Linked DNA regions of Homo sapiens: regions 1 and 3 are each linked to region 2. Evidence: fine-mapped expression QTL. A gene starts in region 2. Each other region holds a variant in brackets. All regions are shown on one strand. Distances are from middle to middle. Region 1 overlaps B3GLCT (beta 3-glucosyltransferase). Region 2 holds the start of B3GLCT (beta 3-glucosyltransferase). Region 3 overlaps B3GLCT (beta 3-glucosyltransferase).

The links.
Region 1: its variant is fine-mapped to the expression of B3GLCT in lung (TOPMed, PIP above 0.99).
Region 3: its variant is fine-mapped to the expression of B3GLCT in unexposed skin (GTEx, PIP above 0.99).

What each region holds. Positions count from the first base shown.
Region 1 is chr13:31,324,843-31,335,636 of GRCh38, reverse strand. B3GLCT (beta 3-glucosyltransferase) reads right to left here. Exons shown (of 15, transcript NM_194318.4): 15 at 3,361-6,136. The coding sequence ends at 5,969. Among named protein-coding and RNA genes, the nearest start is that of B3GLCT, 130 kb to the right of the region's middle. The variant T/C (reference allele first, on the strand shown) is at 5,933.
Region 2 is chr13:31,194,585-31,205,378 of GRCh38, reverse strand. B3GLCT (beta 3-glucosyltransferase) reads right to left here and starts at 5,404. Exons shown (of 15, transcript NM_194318.4): 1 at 5,225-5,404. The coding sequence starts at 5,294. RefSeq lists silencers at 4,444-4,693, 4,754-5,653, 5,704-5,763.
Region 3 is chr13:31,242,819-31,253,612 of GRCh38, reverse strand. It overlaps B3GLCT (beta 3-glucosyltransferase), which reads right to left. Exons shown (of 15, transcript NM_194318.4): 5 at 6,514-6,590; 6 at 5,647-5,758. Among named protein-coding and RNA genes, the nearest start is that of B3GLCT, 48 kb to the right of the region's middle. The variant G/C (reference allele first, on the strand shown) is at 5,083.

The DNA of each region.
Region 1 (10,794 bases), 130 kb before region 2:
ATTTATCCATCTCTTCTTGGTAGAAATTTTTTTTCAATTTGGGGCTGTTATAATAAAGCAAATATGAACTCTTTTGAACATTTCATTTTGTGGAACTGTGCACTCAGGAGAGGAATTACTGAGACATAGTGTAGACCCGAGGTCAGCAAACTTTTTCTGTAAAAGGCAGATAGGAAATATGTAGACTGTGCAAGCCATACGTTCTCCATTGTAATGAGTCAACTCTGCCATAGACAATATGCAAACAAATGGGCGTGCCTGTGTAATACAATTTTGTTGACCAAAGCAGGTGGTGGCCTGGATTTAGCCCATGGGCAGCAGTTGGCTGAACCCTGGCATAGATGTTTGGTTTGCTTTAGTAGAAAATGCTGAGAATAATTTTGCAGTGTGGCTATTTAGTACTCTTAAGCAATACTTTATAAGAATTCAATACATGCTTCACATTTTTGTCAACACTCAAAAGTATCAAGTCTCTTTAGTTTTGCCATTGTTGTAACCGCATAGCATGTCTCACAGTGGGTTTGTGATCTCATTAATGATGTTGAACACTCAAAATACATGTATTGGCCATTTGTATTTCCTCTCTTGTGAGGTGCCTGTTCAAGTGTTTTGGACATTTTTGACTGCGTTGTGTCCTCGGATTTGTAGGAGTTGTATTGGCTATGAACCTGTATTATCTACTGCTGCATAGCAATATTACTGCAAACTTAGGGGTATAAACAAACATACATTTGTTATTTGACAGTTTCTGTGGGTCAAGAGTCTCAGCATGGCTTAGCTTGGTCCTCTGCTTTAGGATCTCTCACACAGCTGCAATAGATATGTTGGCCAGGGCTGTGGTCTCATCTTTTGCTTAAATGAGGAAGGATCTTCTTCCAAACTCATGTGGTGGCAGTGTTCAGTCCCTTGTGGTATACCGCTTTCCAGTCTGCTTCTTGCTGCCTGTTGCCTACAGGTTACCCTTAGTTTCTCACCATGTAGGCTTTCCCAACATGACTGCTTGTTTCCTCAAAGCCAACAAGGAAGAGTATCTCCTCATGAGATGAATATTACAGGCTTATGGAACAGATTCACATACACATAATCACATACATCCCATATCCAATTAGTTAAAATCAAGTCACATAGGTCCCATGAAAACTCAAGGGGAGAGGATTACACAAGGGTATGAATACCAGGAGTCAGGGGTCATGGGGACTATTTTAGAGTTGTCTGCCACAGAGTCTTTGTCAGATATATCATACATATCTTCTCCAGTCTGTAACTTGCCTTTTCCTTTGATAGAAAAAAAATGTTTTATTTAAAATAAAATCAAATGTATCCACTTTTTAATTTTGTAGATAGCGTTTTGTTGTTGTTGTTTTGTAGAGTCAGGGTCTCATTACATTGCCTAAGCTGGTCTCGAACTCCTAGCCTCAAGAAATTCTCCTGCCTCAGCCTTCCAAAATGTTGAGACTGCAGACGTGAGCCACCACACTAGCCCTAGATAGTGGCTTTTTATTACCTGTTTAATAATTCATTGCTTACCTAAGATCATGAAGATATTTTAGTCTGGTTTTCCTCTAGACTAGTGTTTCTCAACCTTGACAATACTAAAATTTGAGGCTAGATAATTCCTTGTTAATTCTTCTCCTGTGCATTGTAGGGTGTTTAACAGCATCTCTGGCCTACCCATGAGATGCCAGTAGCACCCCCTTCCAGTTGTGACATTCAAAAATCTTGCCAAATGTCTCCCAGGGCTAAAAGGCCCCCAGTTGAAAAGTACTGTTCTTAGATGCTTTATAGCTTAATCTTTGAATATAATGTCTGTAATCCGAGTTAGTAGTTGCTTCATATTGTTCCATATATCTAATTTCTCTACATTTATTGAAAAGATCATTTCCCTCATGAACTGCATGTATCACCTTTGTCTTACATTAAGTAATCATATTATATATGGATTCTGCTCAATTTACCTAACTTCAATCGTCATGCCAGTAAAACACTTGAGTAGTTTTTTGGTAGGTCTTGAAATCTGTTCTTGTAAATCTTCGAATTTTGTCATCATAATTGGCTTGGCTATTCTCGGTCCTTTGCATTTCCTTCTATATTTTGAACCAATTTGTCAATTTTTACACACAAAGTCTCAGATTTTTACTGGAAATAAATCTGTAGATCAATTTGAGATAATTGTAGTCATAACAATATTGAACATTTCAGTACATAAAATGATAAACCTTAGTTCCTTTTTAATATCTCTCAAGATTTTCTGGTTTTCAGTGCAGAGATCTTGCAACTATTTATTTCTAGATATTTCTAGATGCTTGCTAATGCTTTCCGGCTTTACTGAGGTATACTTGACACATAAAAAGTGTATATACTTAGTGTACATGATTGTATATATGTATACATTGTAAAATGATTGCCACAATCAAGCCAATTAGCATATCCATCCATTCCTGCTTTTTTTTTTTTTTTTTTTTTTTTTTTGGCAGTGGTGGTAACATTTAAGATCGATTTCCTTAGTATTTAATATTTGTAAACCATTGTAAATAACATTGTTTCCCTAATTTTATTTTCAAATTGTTTGTTGCCAGTATGTAGAAATACAATTATTTTTTATATCAGTCCTGTATCTAGTGATCTTACTAAATTCATTATAAAATACTTTGGATTCTGTTTGTATGCAATCAAGTCATCTGTAAATATCTTTTTACTTCTATTTACTCTTTATATAATTTTCTTTTCTTTCCCCTGACTGGGATCTCCTAAACGATGTTGAATAGAAGTAGTGATGGTAAACATTCTAGTCTTTCCTCCAAATTTAGGGGGAGAAATAATTCAATATGAAAGCATTAGGTATTTATGATACTTTTTTCTGTAGATACTCTTTATTATATTGACGAATTTACCTAGTTTGAGAATTACAAGGTTGGCTGCTGAATTCTGTCAAATGCTTTTTTTCCTCCTTTTTTGCGCAGCTATTAAAATGGTTATACAATTTTTCTCCTTTATTCTATTAATGTGGTGAATTACTTGATTTTTGAATGTTACAGTAGCCTTGCATCCCTGGAATAAACCCATTTGGTCATGAGTTACTATCCTTTTTATGTATCCTCTTTTTACATATTGCTGATCATTTTGTTTAGGATCACTGTCTTTTATGCTCATGAAAGTTGTTAGTCTGTGATTTTCTTTTGTCAAGTTTTGGTGTCAGAGAAACTTGGGTCTCATAAATTCAGCTGGGAAATGTTTCCTTTTTCATTATGCTCTGAAAGAGTTTATGTCCCATAAACATAGTATTTCATCTTTGGATGCCTGGAGAATATCACCGATGAAACCATCTGGGCCTAGAGTTTTCTTTGTAAGAAAGTGTTCAACTTTTCATTACATAATAAAGTTTTTATTTAGTCCATACAAATTACATCTCTGATTATGAATGGAAGACAATAGAAACATTCTTGAAGATGTCAATTACATTAATTTTTGAGGATATATACAACAAGAGGTCTTCAATAAACCCAGAAATGCAGACAGCACTGATATTTACATACCCATACATAGCATCATTTGTGATTTAGCATGCTATTATTGTTTTCTGCTCCTAGGCATTCTAGAAAGGTTATTTTCATGTCTGGATTTCTGATTTAGTTTCAAGATGTAAAAATCCTACATAGTCAGACAACCTGCTTTGGCTATATCATCAGAAATGGCTTAAAAGCAAAAATGACATTCCAGTTATTCCACACACAAATCCCTGATGTTAACATCCCTAGCCTAAAAATAGCCATTTGGAAGGAAAGCCCTATTTCAAAGCAAAGGAAATGTGAGTAAGACAATATCTGGTCCTGGAAATGTCAGACTCAAAATTGAGTTCTTTAGATGGGAATCGATTCTAAAATAACATCTCTGATTTGTTATATAACAAAACACAATGGCTTTATAAACTTTATATAAACATTATCAATTTCTGATGGTTTTCTCTTAAAAGGGTAGCTCTGAAGTAATTATTCTCTCTTTAAACTGTATTTACTGAGCCGCTGACTTTTTTCTGATTTCATTCATTCATTTTCCCCATTTCCCCTCCCCATTCCCAGTCTAGACTAATGAACACAATATTTGAGAAATCAAAAACTTAGGCAAAGATCTTTTACTTGTGGTTAGGCTTACACCATTCCAAAAAGTAAATATAATTAACAAAACACTTAAAAGTACCAGAGGAGGTGCCCCGGTATCAGTAGAAGGCACTAATCAGACCACAGAAGAAAGCTTGACAAGGATCTTCATATACGGATGCCAGCTTCAATCATGTCAAATGAACATGTTGTTCTCTCAGTGGTAACAGTTAGTAGGCCAGAGCAGAACTGGAGACTCTTTTCCACTGGTGTAGGCAGCCAGGGCTCTCCAGGAGTACTATTATAGATGACATGAAGGTGACTACCACGGTAGCAATGACAACAATCCCAGTTACAATGACTGAACAAAGCTAAGGCCATCAGTATAGGCTTGAAGCGATCTAGAAATCCTTCTGGAGCCTCTCATCAGCTGATCATCCCTGATACATCCCTTGGATGGCCACAGAATCCATTTTCACAAAACTGAATCCAATGCATTGTGTTATCACTGCAACACGTGAGGTCTGGTAGTTGCTAATTTGGAAAAATGGTAAATACTAATACTATTGCAAATAGTCAATCTATGCTACAAGAAAAACATATTAACACACACAGGTACTTTTGGTGGTATGGCTTTAAATTCTGTGCTGGGCTATAAAAAGCATTATAAGCAAAGTTAATGAGTAACAGTTTTTATTAAAAAGAAAAAAAAGAAGTAATTTACCAAAATTAGTTTAAGACATATTAAATTTTATGCAAATACCTTTACAAAAACTGAATTATATAATTAGAGTGCTTTTTATACATTAATACTGAATATGTTACATTACTATATATTAAAGATATAATTTGAAAACTAGAGCTGTTTCAAAATACTGTGTTCAAATGTCATTCTTTGGGAACCCAGAGAAATTGCCTGATCACCATGCTGTCCTTCCACAAGGGGTTTCTCTCCTGAGTCAGGAGAGAGTCATTAAGTAACATTTAAAAAAAAAAAAAAAACAAGAGTAAAACATAAGGTCCAAATTTAATTCACTTCCTGAGACTCACATAGAGCTTGCTGACTTGAACAAAACATGTCAACATTGTTTTAAAATATTGAGGACACTATTTTCTGGCAGCATCTACTACTTTCATGTTACAAGTAAGCCATAAAGATAGGGCTTCAGGGAGAAATAAAACACAGATGAACTTCCAAAGCAATACGAAGCTCTAGCAGAAGACCTCATTCTCTTTTTATGAGGCACAAACAGCAAAAGAATAGACAAAACATAACCACCATGATTACAGACTTCAGGGGATTTCATATCTAGGGTTTCATGATGTTTTATGTACAGTATTATTCCTTAATACGGTATTATTCCTACTGAGTTCCCAGGAAATAATTTTCATCATCAATAATATGGTTTAAAAGTTCATACCATTCACAATATCCATGTCAAAAGACTTTCAGTCTTCTTTTTATATATACAAATAGAACTGTAGACAGTCACATCTCTCCAGGCTCATGCCCAACTGAAACTTCCATTACAATGAAGAGACAGAACAGGAAAGGGACTTCTGGTACCATTTATTTCCCTGTGACAATAAAAAAAAACTGCTGTATCACAGCTTGGAGAATACACAGTCATCACTAAGTGTTAAAACAACTGCATAAGTCAAAAGCAAGTGATTTTTCCCAGAAAAAAAAATGTTTCTCCTGTGACCCCTTTTCTTCCTCTGTCAAAAAATACCATACATAAAATCTCCCCCTAAAGTCAGGAAGCACCCAATGCCATGTGGCAGACACAAGTGTTGTGAGCACAGCACAGTGGGATGAGGCCACAGTCTCCAGTTCA[T/C]TCCCTGCGCAGGCTAGGCGCACAGGTCACCCTGATTTATAACTCCTCTCGAAAACCTTTCTGTGTCTCCTGCCTGGCTTTGTCTTCGTCACTGGGTGCCAACCATGTGAAATACACCTTCACTGGATCGATGTTCCAGTGTTTGTGGAACGATATGGGAACTTGATGAGAAAGGTAGTCCTTAGGGTAATCCACCGGCCGAGCCTGCAGGAAAAATAGAGAGTTAGGCTTCCTTGTTGATTGAATATAATTTTGCTGCAGAAGAGCATTTGAATTTATAAAGTGGACTGCTTTACTTCACTACCTAACATTGGCTATAGGAATCTAAAAGCAAAAAGGAAACTATTTTCTGATATCTTTCTTCTAACTCCAGGTGCTTTGCTTTTGTGTCTCCAATTACCTTAATACCCCAAATGCACTGCTTTTTGCTTCTATGTTCCATAGTCTTGCCTCTGGGAGATTCCTAAACAATAGTAATAAATACAAAAAGCTTTCTTTGATAAGCCATTTAAGTTACTATTATCACTTCTGCACAAAGACAGAAAAACTGTTATGTTCCAGGTACTTCTAAGGAAACTGGCCGTAAGTTTGTTGTGGGGGGCTGGGACAAGGATTTCTCAGATTTCCCTTGGCCTCTCTACTGCTCTAATGTGTAATTAGGTGATGTCATTCGAAGAAAGAAAACAAGGAGCTCACTCGGGAGGAGGATAATGTAACTCATGCTCTCTTCCTGACCAAATATCTAGTCTAGTTCCAGAGGTGTAAATGAGAATTGCAAGTAACCCGAAATAGTTTGTGAAAGGACCTAAAAAGTTTTTATATTATCTACATTGCAAAATTTTTTAGAAGTTAGAAAATAAAACTTAAGCAGAACTAGATACAGGTTAGAATAAGATTGAAGAAGTAGCATATAGGGTTAGAAGGAAACTGAAATCAGATACTATTTTGTTTTCTCTAAGCAAAGTATCCAGTTTCTCTCGGTAAACCTTTTTTTTTTTTTTTTTTTTTTTTTGAGATGGAGTTTCACTCTGCTGCCCAGGCTGGAGTGCAGTGGGGCAATCTCAGCTTACTGCAACCTCTGCCTCCCGGGTTCAAGCGATTCTCCGGCCTCAGCCTCCCAAGTAGCTGGGATTACAGGCATGCACTACCATGCCTGGCTAATTTTTGTATTTAGTGGAGACGGGGGTTTCACCATGTTAGCCAGCCTGGTCTCGAACCCCTGACCTCAGGTGATCCACCTACCTTGGCCTCCCAAAGTGCTGAGGTTGCAGGCGTGAGCCACTTTGCCCAGCCAGTAATCATCTTAAATTTGTTTATTAATTTATATGGGCCACTGTTTTATAAAGTAACTCATTAGGTCATCAATACTAAAATTGTCTTGACTACTAAAACTAGATGTGATGCATTTTAAAAACAAGTCTTTTGTAGGCTACTTTTTTTATTACAGTCTGCCTAAATCTTTGATATGAATACTTAAACTCACTTAAATGGTTTACAGAATACCTTTGTTAAATTTTGCCTTATTGAATCCTAGAAACAGCCTTATAAAATGGACAGAATATTATGGTTCACTTCCAATTTACCGCTGAGAAAACCAGAGCTCCCAGAAGTAACATGACTAGCAAACACTGGAATAGAGACCAGAGAGAGGTGCTCAGCCCAGGGCCAGTGCTCTGCCAGGACACCGGCTGCCTCTGCTCAAGCCATCTTACCGCCGGTTGGGCACACTCAGCAGCACCTGGCCTAACCTAGCTTCACCAGTACAAATATACTGCTCAGATGAGTGTTCCAACAATAATATCTGCGAAGAAAAGTTCAAAATAATCTAAGGGGAGAACTTTCACAATTGCTATTTTTAAGAAATTATAACTGCTCAGGGAGTTAAAAATCTAAAAGGAATTTTAAAAGGAAAAAACAGTGAGACAGACAAAAAATACACACTGGAATACAGTCTAACAGAGTTGGGAAAGTTTTGAATATTAGTTGAAGGAATTCATTTATTATACGACGTTTCTTTGCAAGGCCCTCTGAGAGTTTACTGGCAAGGAAGAAAACCAAGGAGAAACATCCTCTCAATTCCGTTAGAAGATAATTCCACAATGATCCCAGAAGAAAGAAATACAGTAGTTCCCCCTTATCCATGGTTTCACTTTCTGAAGTGTCAGTGTCCCACAGTCAATTTTAGTCTGAAAATATTAAATGGAAAATTCCAGAAATACACAATTCCTAAGTTTTAAGTTGCGGGCCCTGCTGAGTATCAGGATGAAATCTGGGGTGTCCCACTCCATCCCGCACTGGGCATGAATCCTCCCTTTGTTCAGCATCTTCATGCTGTCTACACTCCCTGCCCCTGAGTCGCTAGAAGCCGCCTCATTATCCAGTCAACTGCAGCAGTATCACAGTGCTTGTGTTCAAGGAACCCTTATTTTACTTAAGAATAGCCTGAAGCAAGAGTAGTGATGCTGGCATATGGTTATAATTGCTCTATTTTATTATTAGTTATTGTTGTTAATCTCTTACTCTGCCTACTTTCTAAAGTAAACTTGATCATAGGTATGTAAAATATAAGAAAAAACATAGTATACGTAGGGTTCAGTATAGCCAAGGTTTCAAACATCCACTGGGGGGATTGTGGAATGTATCCCCTGTGGTTAAGGAAGGACTACTGTAAAAGCAATGGAAACAAATCCTTGCTGGTTTTTCACCTTTAAAAATGAACTGTTGAAGATAGAAATGCATCTAACAGGAAAAAAAATAAACCATAACATTTTCCACTCTATTAATGCAGATTCTAGAAGTGATTTGCTGCATCTCAGGGAGGCTATACATGCATTAAAAGAGCTGGCTTATTAAACATTACAATTTACTGGTCATTTTTGACAAATGAGGTAATGGAAAAGCATTAGACAAAACCAGAAAAGTGAAATACATCCAAAATGGTATCTTTAATACCAAGAACTCTATGCAGCCTCTAATAATCATATCTCTGTGCCCAAAATGTCAAGAGGAAATCCCAAACAGGCAGGATGAGGGGTGGTGAAGAACTTGAGGAACAGACACAGAGTGTGGTAGGCATCTGCATACAGGAAGAGAGAGGGGCTGAAACTGCCTAAGAAAGACCTACAGCCAGGTGTGGTGGCTCAGGCCTGTAATCCCAGCACTTTGGGAGGCCGAGGCAGGTGGATCACAAGGTCAGGAGATCGAGACCACCCTGGCTAACACATGAAATCCCGTCTCTACTAAAAATACAAAAAATTAGCCAGGCGGGTGGCACACACCTATAGTCCCAGCTACTTGGGAGGCTGAGGCAGGAGAATCGCTTGAACCCAGGAAGCAGAGGTTGCAGTGAGCCGAGATCATGCCACTGCATTCCAGCCTGGGTGACAGAGCAAGACTTCATCTCAAAAAAAAAAAAAAAAAAAAAAAAAAGGGAAAGACCTCCTACATTGGGCAAAATTAGAACCTTTCATCTGTAAATACTGGAGCACACTAAACAGGGCAGCAAATGGAGATTAAAATCACATTTCCTTAGACAAGTGCCTTTCTATAACTGTATTGAAAAATGATTTCCATCCCATACAGTTTACCCACCATAACGGTGGTCTAAAACTTTTCGGGAAATTTCCAGAGTTGAGCAACCACCAATCATTGCACACTGCCATGTCCATTAGTGGCACATAATTTTGGAAGAACAGAAAACCATATGCTCTAGGTGCTGTGCTTTCAACAAAGGGAAATACTAGATTTTCCCTGGAGTCCCCTTCTAAATCTGCGAATTCACAATAACTTTCTCTAAAAACAGAAGAAATGTGACGGCCCAGGCAATTTTGCATATGAGACTGCTTCCAAATGCCCACTCTGTCTCTAGCTCATCAGGATTCTTAAATTTTATCTCTTTGCCTCATATTTCTTTGTGAAGATGAACAAACACAGTTTGGATCAGTGTTTAAACACTATAAATGGAAAGCACTATCCAAATCGTTACCAAACTCTCTAAAAGAGGCTTAAGAATTGGAAGATACAGCATTATCTGTTGGGGAGGATAGGTTTTAAACATATTTTATGATTTTGGAAAAGTTTAAAATGTATGTGAATTAGAGAAATCAAGGGTTCTAAAGTGGGGGAAACAACAACCTTATTTTTAAAAAAATTATCTTCAAAGGACTTTTGCCTATAGATGATTTTCCTTCTTTTCTCCTTATCATTTTATTAGCTAATTTATTCTTCCCTAAATGAAAAGGGCTGCTACAAAAATCTAAGACCTGTCACACTAACCTTGATAAATTATTTCCCTTATACACTAACAGTTTTAATTACCCCTTTTATTGCGTGACTGAAACACCATGAGACAGAGCAAGAGAGGGAACCGCAGAGAATAACGCTTTCTTTCCTAAGTCATCCTAACACAATACACAGGCTTAAAGTGGGTAAGACCTCTCAAAGTCCTAAAGGACAAGTAAGTATCTTCTAACTGACACCAGGAAGGAGGTTTCTCATACATTTCCTTATATTAAAGGTCTCTTTTTATCCTCTCTTATTGTCTCAAGGATACAGAAATGGATTCTGCCTTTCCTGATGATGCAAACACTTTCTTAGTCTTATTCGAGTTGTTTTCTATAGTATACTATTTCTGTCATGCTAAGTTTTCTATATTGCTATGATAATGTTTGCTACTGGTTACCAAATAAATAGAGCATGGGCCAGGTGCAGTGGCTCACATCTGTAATCCTGGCACTTTGGGAAGTCGAGGTGGGAGGATCGCTTGAGTCCAGCAGTTTGAAACCAGTCTGGGCAACATAGTAAGACCCCCATCTCTATAAAAAACTTTAAAAATTAGCCAGGCATGGCGGTGTGCGCCTGTA
Region 2 (10,794 bases):
CACCTTGTTGGCCAGGCTGGTCCTGAACTCCTGACCTCAAATGATCTGCCTGCCTCAGCCTCCTAAAGTGCTGAAATTACAGGTGTGAGCCACCATGCCCGACCAGACACCCAACTCTTAAAAAAAAAAACAAAAAAAAAAAACCTACTCAAATTGCCACCTAATATAATGACCCCCCAAAATACCTTCCAGCCAGACCTGTCCTCTACAGACCCAAATATCTAACTGCTCACCTAACATGGTACCTGGCCATCTCACATGCATTTTGAACTCAACTTGTCCAAAACTGAACTTACTCAGCTTCACCTCCCCCTAAAATTAAAAGTCAAAGTACATTTCAAAAAATTGTGTAAGTACTTAATGCCATAGAACTATACACTTAAAATTCATTATACTTAATAAACTGTATGTTATGTACATTGAACCACATAAAACTGTTTTTAAAAACCTGGTCCTCCTCCTTCAGTGCCCAAGTTAGTAAACAGCACTACTACCCATGGTGGATGTGACAGAAATGTATGACTCATCCTTTCCCCCACCCTTTCTCCCAGCACACTGAACCTAATCAGTCCCAGAGTCTGAGAGATTATTAATCATCTCTCACAACCTGTGTCCAGCAGCCTCCTCACAGTTCCCTATATCCACAATGGCCCCCTCCAACTCCTGCTCCATCAGACAGCCAGAGTGAGTTTCAGGAAACGGCAGCCATATCACATACTGCCCCACTACAGCCCTTCAAACACTTCCCTCTGCTCTAAGGATGACCCCAAAATATGTCCCCTGATCTGCAAGGCCCTACCCAACCTGGCCCCTAATGATCTTGCCAGCCCTTCAGTCCTCCGTCCTTTCTCCACTTGGCTCCTTCACCACCAAGCTCTGCCACCCACTTACCTGATTTCTGCTTCCCTTTCGGGTCTGAGCTCTAACGTCACATCCTCTAGGAAGCCTTCCTTGACCCTTACCCCACAGTTTCTCAAGCTTGCCACTGTTGGCATTTTGGATCCGATAATTAATTGTTCGATGGTGGGGTGGAACTGTCCTGTGCCTTTGTAGGATGTTCAGCAGCACCCCTGACTCTAGATGTCAGTAGCACCCTCTGCCAAACCAGCCCCTGGGATAACCAAAAAGTATCCAGACAGCAACAAACGTTCCCTGGGGTGCAAGATGGCTCCCTGTTGAGATCCATCTCCCCAGTCTAGGCAAAAGCCATCTATCTCCCTGCAGCATGTTCTCACAGCATCCTGAACATCTCTTCCACAGCATTTGGCACAGACACGATTCATTCTGTAGTCATTACTGCTTAACATCACCTTGCCTTTCGGGCTGCAAGCTCCCCAAGGGTAGAGACAGACTAGATCTGTCTTGTTCCTGCAATATCACGATGCCTGACACACAGTAGGTACCCACATTACTCTGAATAAATGAGAGGCTTTGGGCAGTTTTTCTTTTTAACACTATTTTTAAATTGACATTCTTCTAGTAGTTCAAGTCAACGCCTACGTTAAATCAGGTTTCTTTGGGAGTTGCTTAGTGACTAGAACTTTGAAATCATGGTAGTAAGGAAGAACTTCCTCAATAGGTCTGATGAACCCTTGAAACTCACAACTTTTCCTTTATCATGGAAAAGATGAGATTAACCTATGGGGACTCCCATATATTGTTCTTAAGAAGTAATCTGTGCAAAGCCAAAGATGGATCACACATAATGCTACAAGAGGAAAAACAGAACATTTGCAAATTTTCTCTAAGTAGTACCTTTATGCCTAAAAATTATGCTTGCTTGCTTGCTTCATAATGAGTCTAGTAAAACACACCAAAAAAACCTGGCTCCAAAAGAGCCAATTATAAGGAAGTGCTCAAATACCGAGCCCACAATGTTTGTCCCGCAGGAAGTTACCAAAGGGGTCAAAGCACCTCCTTCGAATTCACACTGCTATTTGAAACAGATGCTCTCCCTCCCTCCCACTGGCTTAGCTGTTGGCTACTGGCAAACTCCCCTGGGTCAAGTCCATGACCTGGGGAGCCATGCCAACTCGGAGGTCCTGGACTACCTGGATGACAAAGAATCCATCCAGAAGATTAAAATCTGTGCCAGTAATATCTGCATACTGCTTAAGAAATAAAGAGAAGGTTTTAAGAATCAAAAAACACAAAACAACCTGGAATTAGGTCTGACTCTTGGTGTCCTAAAATTTCTGACTCATTGCAATGAAAGGAATCTGGGCAAGACCTGGCTCAGAATGAAAAACCATCCCCAATTTTGGCAGGTGCTAAGAAATACAAAGTTGGCTCACACAGGGAAGTGACAGACAGGCATGTGAAAAATAAAAGCTAATACCTATTATTTTATCAATATCATTGGTTCGAATAAGCTTCTTCTATCAATTAGGATTAGGTTTGGCAATAGGATTAGGTTTGGCTGCATATAATCTCATGCAATACAAGTCTGCAAACAGGAAATGCAGAGCTGACATGATGCTCCACATCCATCTGGCATCCAGGCTTCTTCTATCTTTCTCTTCTACCATCCTTACTACTGGCTTCCATCTTCAAGGTCACCTCATGGTCACAAGATGGCCACCATGGCTCCATCCCTCAGATCCACTTAATAGGCAATGGGAAGGAGGATAACACAGAGCAAAAAGGCCTGCATCCCAGCTGAGTCAGCCACCTTGAATGAGCTTTACCAGGAGCCCCACCAAACAATCTCTAAAGATATCTCTGTAGAGCACTAGCTGCCCCTATATGCAAAGGCCACTGAGAAATGTCTCACAGTGCTGCTGCCACCGCTGCCACCACCACCCCACCATCCTTCCCCCCAACCCAGATTATATTAGTTTTGTTAGGAAAACAAGGGCTAAAGGGTTACTTCGCAGGTGGCTGTCAATCTCTGCTACAACGGGATCAGTATGTTAAAACTGTAAGAGGTGGCAAAGTGCTAGTATTCTATCCAGTCCATTCGCCCTGTTCATATGAGAAAACTGAAGCTCAAAGCCACTAAAAGCCACACAGCTAACAAATGGTAACCTGGAGGCCTGACTCAATCTTCTCATTCTGAAACTGGTGCCAGACTTTAGAACCAAAGTTGCAGTGAACCGTGTCTGTATATGCATGTGGGTTTAAAAGAAATTTTCTATATTGACTTTTCTCTAAAAATATAAACAAATATGCTCTAGTTTGTGGGGAAACTAAACTATATAGTCAGGCCAATCTTATATGGGAATATTTAAGGTATTTATAAACTATCAAGATTGTTCACATGTGACAGAACGCCTGTCACATTCTGTTTCAGCAAGATTCCAAGAACATCGTAAGTGGGGACATCTTTATACGTGTCGGTGCCCTTCCCCTAAATCGAAGCAGAGCTCCATAAAAGGTATTCATGATTCACTTCAGACCTCGAAGAATACAGCCTCCCGTCTGTGCCAACCCATGAAAGCCAGTTCCCAAAGGCCAAATGTCTCACAGGGACCTTTTAATGCATTTTATGTCTTATTTATTGTGCTTATCTGACAACTTCACAAGGCTAATAGACATCTCTAAAAATGTGTTGACATCTTAGTGCATTCTGAATGTCCTTCAGTGTATTATCAAATTTGGACAGTGCAAATATTCCCCTGGGGGTAATAAAAAATAGACACAGCAATACAAATGTGCATTTCAGCCCATATGTTGTATATATTATATACAAATATTATACCCCCAGTACAGCATTATAAAGTGCAGTGCTATAAATAGAATACCAATTTCAGCTACCACCCACCCATTTGGTTAGTTGCAAAACATCCAGGCAACAAGCCAACTGATGCAGCCAGGAGTCACCCAGTCGCTTTCCCAAACCTCCAACCTCCCTTTCTCCCAGGGCTGCCACCCAGCAATGCCCTTCTTCCACTGAAGCCGATTCCAGCCAAATTCAGTCGCTCCCCAAGACCAACTACAGCCTTCTCTGCCGGAGGTGCCCTAATATTTTTAATTACACTGCTGCCTAATTAATCATGCATGTAAACAATTACCAACTAATCTTGCTCTTTTCCCACACTTACTGAGCGCCTATAGAAATGCCAGAAGTACACAAATGCAGCAAATTAATCCTTATTCAGAGAGCTTAAATACAAATAAAAACAGGCTGTCAAGGTTCCGGTGGGCTAACAAGAGCAGTGCGCAATAACGCTACGTCTTTTCCTAAACTGCACCATTCTGCCATTACTAAAAAATCTGAAATCATTGCCTTTTCACACCAGCAAGTCTGGGTTAGAGGACAAAAACTCTGTAGCAGTCTGAAAAAAAAATAATTTTTCGCTCAAGCTTTCAAAGTTGAACAAATCTGATCATGAAAGTCAATTACAAGGCTGCTTTTTTTTTTTTTTTAACTTTTATCACATCGTTTTAAGATAAAGGGGGGAAATGCCCTTGCGAGGAGAAAAGAAATAAAAAAGAATGGGCATTACAGCAGCAGGAGACCGGGCAAGCACTGCTCTGCTCGCAGACGTGTCCCCTGATGTCCCCAGCGGAGACCCGAGACAGGAGCAAGCCTCCCCGCCGCGCCAGCTCCCGCGGAGGCCCAGCGGGCGCCCCTGTCCTCCTCCGGGTCGGAATCCGGGAAGGGCTGGCGCCGAGCTGGCCGCTTATCCTCAGGGGCCAGGGCACGTCCCGAAGGCCCTGCGGAGGGGCGCGCGGACACCGGGACCGCAGTCCTCGCCCCCGGGGGTCGAACAGGAGCCGCGGGGCCTCGAGGGCCGCCTCGCCGGCTCCCGTCCAGCCTCCCGCCCGGCGCGGGGCGCGCAGGACGGCGGAGCGCGGGCGGAAGGCAGGGGGGCGGGACCGCCGCCGCCGCCACTCGCGCTGTTGCAAAGTTTCTTCGGTGGCACAGTTCCTGCGCGCTTCCTGTGGGGGCGGCTGCTGCGCCCTCGCCGCCCCGTCGCCCGCCGGTTCGGGGCGGCAGAGGCTGGGAGACGCGAGTCTGGGGCCGGGGCGGCAGCGGGGACCCAAGACCGAAAGGGGCCGAGCGGGCACGCCTCGGGTCCCGGGCCCGGGTCCCACCTGGGCGCCGCGAGAGGGCGCTGCTGACGGCGCGGCGCGGCGGGGACCGGACGGCGGGACGCGCGCGCCGGCGGGGCAGGGCTGGGCCGCCCTGCGCCTCCCTCCCCGCGCCGACCGGGGCACGGGCGACTGTGCCCGCGAACCCCACGCCTCGCCCTTGCGCGCCTGGCCGCCCGCTACTTACCCAGGGAGCAGGTGAGGAGCGCGAGCAGCGCCGGCGGCGCGAGCAGCCACCAGCAGGCGGGCGGCCGCATCCTGGCGGCGGAGGCTGAGCGCCCTACCTGGGCGCGGGGAAGGGAGACGCGCGGGGAGCGGAGCTGCGCCGCTGCCGCCGCCGCCCTGCCGCCGCGGCTGACCCTTCTCTGCCGGCTCCCCTCCTCCCTCCGTCTCCGCCGCGCCATCGCCGGCCGCGCCCTCTGGCGGCCGGGAGCGGGAGCACCCCTGTGCGCGCTTCCAGCGTCTGCCGGGCTGGCGGCTGCGGCTGGTGTCCGGCCCGACGGGCTGCTGCGGTAGAGGTGGCCGCGGCTCTGCCCTCACGGCGCCCTCCTTCGAGGCGTCTGACCTCTGCCCCCTCCAGCCACCAGCCTCCACCCCTCCTCTTCCTTTCTCCTCTGCGTCCCTCCTGACCTAGGCCGCGTCCCCTGCCTTCATGCCCTCCCACCTTACCGCGTCACCCCCATCAGTAGTTCTACCTGTGAAGTGGAAGCGAGCAGTAATCACTTTTCCTCCCTGCTAATGTATTATCTGCTGTGGAAAAAAAAATGTAATCAATAGTTCAACTCTTAATATTGTTGGCACCAATGCTCTACTTTGATGAAGGTGTTTTTAATCAGCTCAACTAATTTACTTAATATCCCCTTTAAATGGAATTTGGCCAATAGCCTAGGTCTGGGATTTGGCTTTTAAACAAGTTTGTGTAAATGTAATTTTCTATAAATGTAATTTTAAGTGTTCACCATAATGGAAGAGAGTGGGTGTAATTTTATTCAAAATATAAAAATTAATTAAACTGGAATACAGAGAAGTGGAGCAATGTGGGAGTGCCTCCTGTTCCCGCAGGACTGCGAAGGGCTTTCCTCCCCAGCCCGGTAGAGTGGTGGCCCTGATAGGGGACTGGTCCTGTTGTGTTGTGTGGTGCACTGAAGGGGAAAGCATTACAAGTAAGAACTAGAGGCTCCCTTCAGTGGTTCTGAACTCCTTCGTGCCTCCCTCAAGCCTTGGCTCACTTCTGTTTCCAAGGAAGTGCACAGGACCAAGTGCTTTTCCCAGCCCTAGTTTAGCCCATGACCTCTTGAAGGCAGTTTCTATGTTTTCCTTCATATTTACTCATTTGTTGGATACCTACTATGTGACTGCAACTCTGCTAAGCACCCTAGGAATGCCAGTATCTTTCACATGGACATACAACATTCACCTACTTGCTAAACATTTAAGGAGGAGGAGGCCCTGGGAGTACAAGTAGGATGGCCCTGGGAATACAAGTAGGATGTCCTGGAGACAGAGAAGCAGGTGCTGAATAAACATTTGTAGGCTTGAGCCCTCTTAACTTGAATGCGTTTAGGGGACTTAGGCTCTAATGCATTAGGACAGTATTGTCTGCAATTGTGCAATACCTGCTGGGATTGTTTTGAAAAGGAGGCCTGGAGACAAAGAATTTTCTCTCTGTGTGGTTTATATTGACTTCTTAAAACTGGGAACTAAATATTTCACGTGTGATCCATTTAGTGTGAGTGCAAATAGTTCCCTTTTGTTCCATTCGCCCAAGGTTTATGGTCTCTTGTCAATACCATTTTGATGGGAGGAAAAAGAAATGTAGGGATCCTTCCATTTCATTTCTTAGTGAAGCATTTCAAATCTATGGTTGACTGAATTCATTGCTTTTATCCTTGGGAAATTCTCAAGCTTACCTGCCTAGTAGTTCTAGATTGTTTCCAATTTCCAAAGCTGTTTTCGCTTTTTTCCAAGAAAATATTCCTTGCATATGTGGGGTAGTAAACATTTAACCAAACTGTTTAATTAGACACAGAAGACTAATAAGCAGGGTCAAATGCCTACTCCACGTGGGTAAGCAACTCCTGGTGCTTAATCAATGTTTTCATGGAAATTCATCATGTTAGAGTATTACTATGTTCCAGAACAAGGTGTGGAAAATTAAGCCCTAAGGACAACAGAGAACACACCGTTTAAGTAATAAACTTGCCCTGGTGTCCTTCCTTTCCACAGTAGACATAGATAAATGGCACATTACAAAGCTCCATAACTCACATTTTAAAAAGAATTGCCTTTCACTTACTCTAGTCATATGATAAATGGACTTGCTGGGAGTTCTCTCTCCCAATCACATGTCAGGAGAGTTTCCTAGAGCAACGTACTGATGAGGATACTAACAGATACATGATAGGCACTGCTTGCCTATAACATTGACTGTAAAGGAACAACTCTAAGTAGAAAAAAAATAAATCCTATAAACTTTAAGATTGTGATATGAAAACAAGCAAGCCATCTTCTTGGGATTTACTCAATCCCAGCTGTCACCTCCATGCTGGCCCCTGAAACTTTCTTTGTTGAGGGACAGGGGAAGAAGCAAGGAGCCATCTTTTGTTGGGGAAGGCACTGTCGCAACCTGGTTAAAACAGACTGGTAATTTTACAGATAATTTTCTAAATACTAAAGGAGAACATAAAGACATACTAAAACCACTGAGAGCCAAATAATCTAATGAACAAGTTCCAAACAGATGGTTTCTGATCTTACAACAGTTATCCTTGAGGCCCAAAAGGCTGAACTCCATTCATTCAAATGATAGGGAGCACCTCTAGCTGATGTGCCCTTTGCTAAGCTCTGGGGCAGATATTAAAGAGCATAAAACATGGTCCTGGGCCCAAGAACTCACGGTCCAGTTTGGGAGACAAAAATGTTCATAACTAACTTTGCTACCTTCTTATAAATGCTATGGCATGCGTAGATCAGCACACTTTGGAACACACAGGGAAAAAAAAATCTCTCAGGGCCTTTGGAATCTGTAAGAAAAGAAGCGACTGTTGCACAGGATCTTAAAGGAGAAATAGCAGGTTCCTGAGCTGAGAAAGGAGGACAGGCGCCCCAGGCTGAGGCACAGCACGAATGTGCAAATCAACAGTAGTGTGGCGGGTGGGGAGAGGGGCTGCAAGGAGGAACAGCTTCTCACTGTGCCCCCTCCAGCCTGCTGCCTCTCTCCTGTGACTTGGAAGGGGCCTCCCAGGCACCCTGTTTCTATACTAGCAAAGCCCAAAGGGCATATTCCAACTCTTCCCACTCTCGGTGCCCTTTCACTCAGTGTCAGGCCTAAAGTGGATTAGCAGTCAACACAATTCAGGAGGACTATTCTCTTCCTGCATAAAACAGCAGGTTTATGAATTATGAGTGGTCTTGAGGATTATTTTCCAAACCTAAAATCAGGTCTTAAGGTTTAATAGTAAAATAGAATGTCTAAAACAGGGTCTCCGGGACTTAAGGTCATTATAATATCAGACCTATGCTACAGTACTTTAATCATCTGCTCACCATCCTCACACCCCACAATCAGTGCACACTAGGGGGTTACAGGAGAAAGACTCATCACTTGTACCTTACGCTTTAGCGTTTTGGGAAGGAAGATAATCTATGATCCCCGTGGAGAAGAGGGAGACAGGAAGAGAAGAGAGGGAGCAAAACTTTCATCACTCAGAGAGGACCCAGAGCCACAGCCCCACTGCATGTACTCAGGAAGAATCCTTTGATGACATACGGTGGTTTCTTTAATGCCCTCAGGGAGCTTGTCTCACATTGCTTCCAAAGCTATTCAAAAATTATAGGCAAGGCCAGGTGCAGTGGCTCACACCTGTAATCCCAGCATTTTGGGAGGCTGAGGCGGGTGGATCATTTGAGGTCAGGCATTCAAGATCAGCCTGGCCAATGTAGTGAAAGCCCATCTGTACTAAAAATATAAAAATTAGCTGGGCATGGTGGCGCACGCCTGTAATCCCAGCTAATCAGGAGGGGGAGGCAGGAGAATCGTTTGAACTGGGGAGGTAGAGGTTTCAGTGAGCCGAGATCACGCCACTGCACTCCAGCCTGGGCGACAGAGTGAGATTCTGTCTGGAAAAAAAAAAATATATATATATATATATATATTTAGGCAAAACCCATTCTGTCAAACCAAACTTTCAACCAAGATTTTTATTCAAAGAAGCTTAACAAAGGGATTCTCACAGCCTAACAACCCTGAACCAAAATCCAGGAAATATAACAGGTTACCATCTCAGCAGACCCCCCAGGAAAGCCCAGAAATCTGAAGCCATTGACATTTGAAGACACAGAGTGATATAAAGCCTGTCTACAAGAAAGCTATCCTAGAAACTTCTAATCAGAAATAGATGATCTACTTGGCTGTTTCGCTCTCCTTTGTAGAATCACATATCCTTCTGTTCCCAGTAAAGATCAGGAATCACTCATAGCAGGCATGACAGGAAGTGTCTGCATTTGACTTTCACTAAGAACAGAAGGCGTGGGGCATGACTGTTCAGCAGCCCACACAAAATGTGTTGGTGTTTTTGGTGCTGTTGCTAATAAGTAGTTGTTCATTTTACAACAGCTGCTTTCAGATGTAGGATCTTGCTTAATAAGCTCAACAAAAATTTTATGTGTTTGTGACGAATGTATCACGGACTAACTGCATGTATGAGGCCCTCATATGGCATGCTGAGTTTGGAGGAAAATGCATTTTCCTGGGGGAGATCACAGTCTAGTTAGGAGGACCAGGACATACAGAAATAGCCATAAACCCTCCTGGAACATGGAAATCCCCTAAGAAGCGTACGAACAAGGGCAAGGAGAAGGAAAGCACATTCATCAGTGGGGCTGCATGGGGCCTCACCGAGATGGCGCGGTTGCCAAGAGAGAAGGGGAGAAGGCATTCCAAGCAGAGGAGACAAGCAAGAAATGCCATGGAAGACCGAGAGTTCAGAGACTGAGGAGCTGTTTAGTTTGGCCAGCACGAGGGAACATGGAGGGGAGGCTGGTTAGGACCGTACCGAGCAGGGGCTTGGGCACCGTGCTAGGAGAATGGCCTTCCCTTGAGTGGGGCAATGAGCAGTGGATAGATGGAAGGATGTTTCAGCAGGTGATGACCAAAACCTCCACTACAAGACTGTAGCTCGTAAGGCCTACCTGGTGTCCTAACTCGGCAACCCCTATCAGAAAAATAATGAATATTTCAATTGTGATGAATTCACATGATGAACACTCAGTTCACGTGAGTTGGGTACTGATTTAATGATTGATCAGTGCTGTGAGAAGTTTAATTCAGTGTTAATGTTGTGGATGGATTAGAGAGGGGAAAGAAAGAAAAAAGACTGGCTAGAAAAAATTATGAGGAAAGGGGAAATGAAGGAAAACTAACATGTATGTACTGAACACATGCAGTAGCTAGGCACTCTGCCAGTTACTTTCTTTTTTTTTTTTTTTTTTTTGAGACGGAGTCTCGCTCTGTCGCCCAGGCTGGAGTGCAGTGGCGGGATCTCGGCTCACTGCAAGCTCCGCCTCCCGGGTTCACGCCATTCTCCTGCCTCAGCCTCCCAAGTAGCTGGGACTACAGGCGCCCGCCACTACGCCCGGCTAATTTTTTGTATTTTTAGTAGAGACGGGGTTTCACCGTTTTAGCCGGGATGGTCTCGATCTCCTGACCTCGTGATCCGCCCGCCTCGGCCTCCCAAGTTACTTTCAAATATATTATTT
Region 3 (10,794 bases), 48 kb before region 2:
TTTTTTTTTTTTTTTTTGAGATGGAGTCTCACTCTGTCACCCAGGCTGGAGTGCAGTGGCACAATCTCAGACAACTGCTGCAAGCTCCACCTGCCGGGTTCACGCCATTCTCCTGCCTCAGCCTCCCGAGTAGCTGGGACTACAGGCACCCGCCACCACGCCCAGCTAATTTTTTTTGCACTTTTAGTAGAGACGGGGTTTCATCATGCTAGCCAGGATGGTCTCAATCTCCCGACCTCGTGATCCACCCACCTTGGCCTCCCAAAGTGCTAGGATTACAGGCATGAGCCACCGCACCCGGTCTTCTCTATTCTTTTAATTGTGATGTTAGAGTGTCGATTTTCGATCTTTCCTGCCTTCTCTTGTGGGCATTTAGTGCTATAGATTTCCCTCTACACACTTCTTTAAATGTGTCCCAGAGAGTCTGGTATGTTGTGCGTTTGTTCTCATTGGTTTCAAAGGACATCTTTATTTCTGCTTTCGTTTCGTTATTTACCCAGTAGTCATTCAGGAGCAGGTTGTTCAGTTTCCACATAGTTGTGCGGTTTTGAGTGAGTTTCTTAGTCCTGAGTTCTAATTTGATTGCACTGTGGTCTGAGAGACTGTTTGTTATGATTTCCGTTCTTTTGCATTTGCTGAGGAGTGTTTTACTTCCAATTATGTGGTCAATTTTAGAATAAGAGTGATGTGTTGCTGAGAAGAATGTATATTCTGTTGATTTGGGGTGGCGAGTTCTGTAGATGTCTGTTAGGTCTGCTTGGTCCAGAGCTGAGTTCAGGTCCTGGATATCCTTGTTAATTTTCTGTCTTGTTGATCTGTCTAATACTGACAGTGGGGTGTTAAAGTCTCCATTATTGTGTGGGAGTCTAAGTCTCTGTGTAGGTCTCTAAGAGCTTGCTTTATGAATCTGGGTGCTCCTGTATTGAGTGCATATATTTAGGACAGTTAGCTCTTCTTGTTGTGTTGATCCCTTTACCATTATGCAATGCCCTTCTTTGTCTCTTTTGATCTTTCTTGGTTTAAAGTCTGTTTTATCAGAGACTAGGATTGCAACCCCCGCTTTTTTTTTGGCCTTCCATTTGCTTGGTAAATCTTCCTCCATCCCTTTTTGAGCCTATGTGTGTCTTTGCACATGAGATGGGTCTCCCAAACACAGCACACTGATGGGTCTTAACTCTTTATCCAATTTGCCAGTCTGTGTCTTTTAACTGGAGCATTTAGCCCATTTACATTTAAGGTTAATATTGTTATGTGTAAATCTGATCCTGCCATTTTGATGCTAGCTGGTTATTTTGCCCCTTAGTTGATGCAGTTTCTTCATAGCATCAATGGTCTTTACAATTTGGTATGTTTTGGCAGTGGCTGGTACTGGTTGTTCCTTTCCATGCTTACTGCTTCCTTCAGGAGCTCTTGCAGGGCAGGCCTGGTGGTGACAAAATCTCTCAGCATTTCTTTGTCTGTAAAGGATTTTATTTCTCCTTCCCTTATGAAGCTTAGTTTGGCTGGATATGAAAATTCTGGGTTGAAAATTCCTTTCTTTAAGAATGCTGCATATTGGCACACACTCTCTTCTGGCTTGTAGGGTTTCTGCTGAGAGATCCGCTGTTAGTCTGATGGGCTTCCTTTTGTGGGTAACCGGACTTTCCCTCTGGCTGCCCTTAACATTTTTTTCCTTCATTTCAACCTTGGTGAATCTGACGACTATGTGTCTTGGGGTTGCTCTTCTCGAGGAGTATCTTTGTAGTGTTCTCCATATTTCTGAGTTTGAATGTTGACCTGCTTTGCTACGTTGGGGAAGTTCTCCCGGATAATATCCTGAAGAGTGTTTTCCAACTTGGTTCCATTCTCGCCATCACTTTCAGGTACAGCAATCAAATGTAGATTTGGTCTTTTCACACAGTCCCATATTTCTTGGAGGCTTTGTTCATTTCTTTTCACTCTTCTTTCTCTAATCTTGTCTTCTTGCTTTATTTCATTGAGTTGATCTTCAATCTCTGATATCCTTTCTTCCACTTGATCGATTCGGCTATTGGTACTTGGGTATGCTTCACAAAGTGCTTGTGCTGTGTTTTTCAGCTCCATCAGGTCATTTACGTTCTTCTCTAAACTGGTTATTCTAGTTAGCAATTCCTATAACCTTTTTTCAAGGTTCTTAGCTTCCTTGCACTGGGTTAGAACATGCTCCTTTAGCTTGAAGGAGTTTGTTATTACCCACCTTCGGAAGCCTACTTCTGTCAATTCGTCAAACTCATTCTCCATCCAGTTTTGTTCCCTTGCTGGTGAGGAGTTGTGATCCTTTGAAGGAGAAGAGGTGTTCTGGTTTTTGGGATTTTCAGCCGTTTTGTGCTAGTTTCTCCCCAATCTTCATGGATTTATCTACGTTTGGTCTTTGAAGTCGGTGACCTTCGGAGGGGGTCTCTGAGTGGACGTCCTTTTTGTTGATGTTGATACTATTCCTTTCTGTTTATTAGTTTTCCTTCTAACAGTCTGGTCCCCTGCTACAGGTCTGCTGGAGTTTGCTGGAGATCCGTTCCAGATCCTGTTTGCCTGGGTATCCCCGGTGGAGGGTGCAGAACCACAAAGATTGCTGCCTGTTCCTTCCTCTGGAAGCTTCATCCCAGAGGAGCACCTGCCAGATGCCAGTCAGAGCTCTCCTGTATGAGGTGTCTGTCGGCCCCTACTGGGAGGTGTCTCCCAGTCAGGCTACACGGGGGTTCAGGGACCCACTTCAGGAGGGAGGCTGTCCCTTATCAGAGCTCAAACACTGTGCTGAGAGATCCGCTGCTCTCTTCAGAGCTGCCAGGTAGGGACATTTAAGTCTGCTGAAGTGGCGCCCACAACTGCCCCTTCCCCCAGGTTCTCTGTCCCAGGGAGGTGGAGGTTTTATCTATAAGTCTCTGACTGGGGCTGCTGCCTTTTTTCAGAGACGCCCTGCCCAGAGAGGAGGGAATCTAAACAGGCAGTCTGGCGGCAGAGGCCTTGCCTCGCTGTGGTGGGCTCCACCCAGTTTGAACTTCCTGGTGGCTTTGTTTACACTGTGAGGGTAAAATTGCCTACTCAAGCCTCAGCAATGGCGGACGCCCCTCAGAATTACTTTTTGCAAGCACCTGTGTTTTATCTCTATTAAAAATAAATTTAGGCCAGGTGTGGTGGCTCCATGCCTGTAATCCCAGCACTTTGGGAGGCCGAGGCAGGCAGATCACTTGAGACCAGGAGTTGAAGACCAGACTGGCCAACAGGGCAAAATCCCATCTTTACTAAAAATTCAAAAATTACTCAGGTTTGCTGGTGCAAGACTGTAATCCCAGCTACTTGGGAGGCTGAGGCACAAGAATTGATTGAACCTGGGAGGTGGAGGTTGCAGTGAGCCAAGACTGCACCACTGCACTCCGGCCTGGGTGACAGAACGAGACTCTGTCTCAAAAAATAAAATAAAACAAAATAAATTTAAAGTCAACACACCTCATAAAATACACATATATTAAAAGCATACTGTGGTTACAAAGGAAAGACTTCAAACAACATACAAAAATTTATAGAAATCACCGAGGAAGGCAATTTAATAAAGATTAATAAAAGTTAAAAGTTTTACATTTAAAATATTTTGACAGTATACATTTGCATTAGTAAGAATGACTGAAAGATGATGATGGAAATAAATCAGAATCAAACAAAATACCTTATACCCTCACACATTACATAATTATTTTAATGTACTCAAAGTTTATTTGTGTAAATATCAAAGCCAGGTTTGCTTTATACTTTTTTCCCTTCAAATGGTAGAGGACAAAAAAATCACACTGGTTTGAGCTAACTTCAACATCATATAATCTTTATCATTTCTTACTGTTAGTCTCAAAAGAAATAAAGCATCCTGGATGGTTTTTTTTTACACATGGCAGAGTTCTGAAAAGAGGGAGAAAACATCTCCTTTTACCTCTGTTCTGTACTTGCTTTTCATGAACTTGCTTTGAACTTTTAAATTTATCATCCCAATTTTCATTAAAAAGCAAAGTGAGTCACCATCTCCTGTACAGAATTAGAGCTATGGATAATGGAAAAATAACCTCCAGGTGAAATGAACACTAGGAGGAGGTGAAAACTCCTACATCCTAAAAAAGATTTGGGAGTTTTTCCCAAGCCAAAAGGAAACATAAAAGCCTAACAAATGGTTTGCATAAAACATGGCAGAAAGTGCACAGATGCTGGTTAGTGTCATCTGAAAAGACTGGATGAGACAGGTTCATAATTCTTCTCTTTGAAAGAATTATTTTTTTAACCCAATGACCTTCTCATCCAATTATATCTAAAGCTTCCCAGAAATTAAAAGCATGAAGAAAAATCATAGTGGATCTTTCCAGCATTTAAAGATCATCAAAAGCAGTGGTTTCTATTATAGTAACAGGCTTTCCAGGGTTGGAGAAATTAATCTAACGATCACTGTTGCCCAGTGTTTGACATCTACATCAACAAACCGAGCAGAACCCAGAAGCTTGCCTTTTATTCCCCATGAGCTCATTACATCTGATTCATCTCAGGAGCGAGCATTCGAAGGTGGGTGGGACAGGTTTCCACTGGGACCAGAAAGGGCCCATCTCTGCTTATCTCAAGTTTAAAGAATTCCAAAAAGTGATCAGGTTGTAACCTGGGCTTCTTTCCTCTGAAAGAGAACTGAATGAGCTCGATTTACTCTTGACACATTTCCAAGGCAGCTCTCTAAACCTAACGAGCCTTTGAACATAGCCCAGCAGCAAAACTGATTATTACAGGGTTATAAAGTCATTCGCAAATATTCACTGACCACCTACTAAGTGTTAAACACTCTGCTAAGGGCTAGGGATTTCAAGGCAAACAAAATCCAGTTGCTCTATCAAATCTGCATGAAATAAAAACAAGATCTGAAAATGTAAAAGCAGTAGTGGACTTCACTGAGTTCCTCTAGTTCAAGATACATCCCTTCCCACCCCCATTCTTTCTCAAATCGTGTTCCCTCTGCCTGGTAGACCCTCTTTCTCTCTTGCTAACTCCTACTCATCCTACAGAACTCAGATTAAATGTCACTTCCTGTCCTGACCCTCCCAG[G/C]TTAGATTCCATGCCCCTGTTATATGCTTCTAACAGCACCCTAGTCTTCCTTATTAGAGATGTTTTCCTTCTAACCATAACTGCTTCTCTAATGGTCTGTTCTCCCTGCTATTCTGTGCCACCCACATGTTCAGAATCGCTGTCTGTTTTGTTCTAGCCTCCGCCATCCACAGTGCTCAGTATACAGCTGGCACTCAAAAAAAATTTTCTATCTAAAATAATATATGGTCACTGTCTAATAAGCAGAAATAGCCAACTTAAGTTTATTGCTAAGAAAAGCAGTTTATGAACTTCAAGTTATAGTTTCCAACTCTCTGAAATTGCTAACACATATATTAACAGATTTTTTTCATTTAAAATGGCTCATTATAAGCTCTGTCCCTCTATAAGCTACAAACTTCAAAGAGCATTACTTAACATATCTCAGATATTCAACAATGTTTCATTCTTTTTAATTTTAAACTAAGTGGTTTTTTATTAGATTCAAAAGCTTCTTAATCAAAATTAAATCTCCTTTGAAACACTGTCCCCCAAAATAAGAACTGGTATTGAAGTTATATTCACCTTAGAGGGGTCATATCTTCTGAGGGTTTCCAAGAGTTTTGGAATCTGTATTCTTGTCTCTTCTTCACAGAAGAAAATCCAAGATGAATTTCTGCTATATGTTACAGAAAAACTGACCAAAAGAAACAAGTTTCAGTAATCACTTCTGTAAAATAAGTTAATAATAAGGTTTAAAACTGATCAGTAGGAAGTGAATGAAGGGTACACAGAATGGCATATCTAATTTTTTTCTCTATATTTTTCTTCAGCTTATAGAAAAGCCAGATGCTAATGGTTTAAAAAACAGCTGGAGTTCGTAAAGTTAATTCTCTCCATAACAACACTAGTTCAGGGGATAAATAATTTTCAAATATCAACTTGAAGCATTTTATTCTTTAAGAAAAAGCATATATAGGGCAGGGTGTGGTGGCTCACGCCTGTTATCCCAGCACTTTGGGAGGCCAAGGCAGACGGATCACAAGGTCAACAGATCAAGGCCATCCTGGCCAACATGGTAAAATCTCATCTATACTAAAAATAAAAAAATAACTGGGAGTGGTGGTGCACGCCTGTAGTCACAGCTACTCGGGAGGCTGAGGCAGGGAATTGCTTGAACCCATGAGGCAGAGCTTGCAGGAGCCAAGTCACCACTGCATTCCAGCCTGGCGACAGAGCGAGACTCTGTCTCCAAAAAAAAAGAAAAAGCTATTCATGATTAAGAACCAATCATCAAGAAATTTGGTTAAGGTAGTAATCATAAAAAGTAAAACTCAAATTTACTTCACTTACTGACTGAGGAAAACCACACCCTCTTAATAAAAAGACTAAGGGCGTAAAAGTGTTCAGGTAGGAATGTCAGTAATTCACAGGTGAGTTAAACAAACGTACTGCGGTAACAACGGAAGTATGGTCCATGCACCTTCTTGTTTAGCCAGCTGATGAAGGAGGAGGACACTGGGGAGCTCCTGAGAAAACAATGATCAAAGAAGATAAGTATGAATTGACTACTCCGAAAAAAAGTAAAAAAAAAAAAAAAGAAAAGAAAAGAAAAGAAAAAAGAAAAAAAGAAAAGGCTTGGCTTAAAATGCAGCTGTTTCTAGAGACCTGACATGGTACTCTTCAAACCACTTCTTTTTCCTCATTTTCTCCAGGAGCTACTGGAAATGAAGTATTTTGGCTGAATCCATGCAACCTCTACACTCTGCACCACCCACACACCCAAATAGAGCTCAAGACCTACAAGGAGGGTCTTCCGTGACTCCGAGCCAACCTGAAATCTGTGAAGGTGACTTGAAGGGAAGAGCCTGGGGGAAGTAGTCAGGGATAACTCAGAGGCACAGAAGCAGTTTTTTATTTTATATACAACATATGGAACATGTGAAAATGAAAACCCTTTGGCTAAACTAGAGGATACAATATTTGATCTACCTCATGTGCAAAAATTACTTTACTTTTTAAAGTTCTCTAAACACATTAAAATACCCTGATAACAAAAAGTTTTGGTCGAGAAATGTAATCCTTAATTACTCAGGCAATAACAGGAATAGCATAATAATGGAATTGACAAATTTATAAGCATAGGAGGAACTAAAATTCAGAAATAAGGCACAACTGTGCTTACATAAATTATGTATACATATATAAAGAGAGATTAATATTTTTAAGGCTACGAGTGTTAGCTTTGAAGCAAAACACTATTCCCTATATTTCAAGTTGTTACAAAAGCCAAAAGTCAAAAATTTCATATCTCATATGCTTAAACCTCCTCCCCCAACAAACTTTATTATATCCTGTGTTTTATACTAGCCATAAAACTATATTCCTAGTAACCATTACAGACAAAAGAATTCAAGAACAAGTACCTAAGTATCTGAAACATTACTGCACTGATGTGGATTTCACAGCTGTCTTAAAGTTCATAGATATTTATTATTTAAGAAGAGAATAGTCTTTAATGTAAATCTTTGGAATTAAATTTCAAGTAAATCTCATTTATTTTATATAATATTCATTTCAACTTCCATGTAGAAATATGAAATGCAAAAAACAGTAATCACAGGTTAAATCAGACAAACAATGTGGTATGTTAGAAAGAGCAAACCTTAAGGCTGAATTAGCAGTTACCCAATATAAATAATTCAGGGCCTTCCTACTGTTACTTCTGAATTATGCAGTAATTTTCATTGTCTTTTTAAAATTCCAGCAAATATATATATTCATGAAGGATTACATAAGAGCAGAAAATCATGTGTAAAGAAACTAATGATGTTACTATTTGCATAAAACTTTGGAATAATTATGGGTAAATGCAAATGTGAGCTAGACAAGAAAAGAAATATAGCAAATACTTTTTAAAGTTTTACATAAAAGTAGCTAATGAGTTATTATGTATCAATTAAAATTATGATGAAAACTTTATAACAACGGAAATGTCTTTATGTTTAATAGAAAAAAACCAGACATGATTCCAAGAATAAAACAAAATCCTAGATGAACAGAGACTAGAAGAACCAGGAAGTGAAAATATTTGTGTCAAGATGATAGAACAATGAGATATATGCTTTAAAAATCCTTCAATTAAAACATAGCTAAGTTTTTTAAACATTGAAGGAAAATGAATGCACCTCAAAAATTTACTTCCAAACAAGTATTATACTTCCTAGTTATAGGATATATATATAATGTAATATCAACAGCTATTAACTGAGAAAAGGCTTCCTTTGATACCTTGACGGTAACCTCAGCAGAAAGGCTACAAAAGCACTTTCCTGGGAGAGATTAGAAGACAAGCTTATTAATAATTTCTGCCACAACATAAAATGTGGGAGGCAAAGGTTTAGGTAGTGCAAACAAGGAATCACATCCTAGATTGAAATAAACTCTATGGATTATCAGTAGATTAAAGTCATTCATAGCTCCATTATATTTGTTTAGTAAATCATATACTAGATTTCATATTTGCTTCAGTTTGTGAACACAAGATCAGTCAAATTTTCTGTCTCTCTGTATCTCCATATAACAACATTTCAAAAGCTAGCATGCCTTGTTAATAACACTCTCCAAAGGTGAGTACTCAAAAATACAAAGTAGGTGCTACTTTGGCACTCAGAAACCTGCTCTTGATTAACTCTTGATTAAGCCAAAGTCATCTTAATTGTAAATAAATTTTAATCTACTAATCCCCAAAAATGCCCAAGAGCTTTTATTCTTGTCATATACATATACACACATATATACACATATATATATATGAATGCACACAGAGACCCAAACAGATGTAATATTACACTTAGATGTAGTAGCACCTTAAAGGTAATTATCAAAAAGGGTGCAATAAAATTTTCTATCAAATGATCTTATCTCAGTTCCTACCACTTAGGATTATAATAATTTATGTTCCATCTATCGCCATCATAAGATTTAGATCTCCTTAAAGGTAGTGTCACTAAATGATACCATTTTTAGATTCAAAGCAAGTTTTTATTTTTATTTTTGGAGACAGAGTTTCGCTCTTGTCACCCAGGCTGTAGTGCAATGGCGCAATCTCGGCTCACTGCAACCTCTGCCTCCCAGGTTCAAGTGATTCTCTTGCCTCAGCCTCCCGAGTAGCTGGGATTACAGGGGTGCACCACCACGCCTGGCTAATTTTTGTGTTATTAATAGAGACAGGGTTTCACCATGTTGGCCAGGCTGGTCTCGAACTCCTGATTTCAGGTGATCCACCCGCCTCGGCCTCCCAAAGTGCTGGGATTACAGGCATGAGCCACCGTGCCCAGTCTCAAAGCAAGTTTTTAAATAAGTAACTGGCTGAATAACTAAGAAATAGTTTTCAAATTAAAATTCAAGGGGAAAATAAGAAAATGTTATATCAACATTACCAAGAGCTGTCTGGAATAAAGACATAGTAAAGGCATTCATGCATGCAACAACTGTCGTCAATCTAAATGATGCCTAATCATGCTACTATTTCAAACCTAAAAGGTAATTCAAAATTCTCTCGATAATGAGATAATGCCGTAACAGGCAGGCATAAAGGAGCTAAAAATACAAATGATCAAATATGGATAAATGACAGAAAAGGGAAAGAAAATGAAAAGGTCGCTTGCAGTAATTTAAACTTTCATGTCAACTCTATTTATCTCTTTGAATTAAAGTCTGCCTTTATCAGCATCCACTGGTATCATAATCACTTTGAAGACAGGAAGCCTACTGAACTTTCAGTCGGTACTTCCTTGGAACATATTTGTTATCAAGGCATGAATTCATATTTAAAGCAGCTAATAATTATTGAGAGCAAACAAATTTAAAACCAACATTCTAATTCATTAGTTGGTTCTTATACATATTCATCATCCTCATTTGGGAAAGGGGTTTGATTCCAATATCACAGCTGAGTATTCTCACAATATTTTTAGAATGGAGAAGGGTCATTATTCTTGACATGGAGGGGAAATCATTAAAAATTTATATGTAGAAATATTAATAGTATGAATGAAAAAGCTAACATTTGAACATGGATTAAAATAGATGAATATATAAAATATCATAAATAACCTTAATTATTCAGCAGATTTGGTTTTGAACCATTTTAGTTTTTCTGCATGTCTGGAAATAATTCAACAATTAAACTACATGGTGCTGGTCTTTCCCTTGTCAACAGACTATTTGCCAGTATTTGTCATTTGTCCTTAATTTAACCTCTAAACCTAGAAGTACATGGGTTTATGGTCTCATTCAGTTTTATTATTCAGACTACATGCTAAACTAGAAAGTAAGATCAGCATTAGGCAAAGGTTCTAAAAAACTGAACTTTTAAGACTGATTCCATTTCAACTGTTTGTCTAAATTCCAACTATTACATCATTCTGAGGCACTGAACTGAGCTTTTAGAACAACAAATAAATTATGGTGAAAATTAACATCTGTTTATTGTTACAATTTCTTCTGTAAGAGGTACGTATGTCTTATGAGGATAACAGAGATCTGTAATATGCTATTTGCAACATGTATCAGACAGATTTACTAGCCTTTAGAAATCCAGTATTCATTTATGGCCCCCAGCAGATTATATGTGATGTTATAATAACATACCTTCTAGGAATCTGAGTCTATATTACAAAAAAAAGAAAAGATTTTTCTAGATACCTGTCTTAATCATTAAATGTCCTT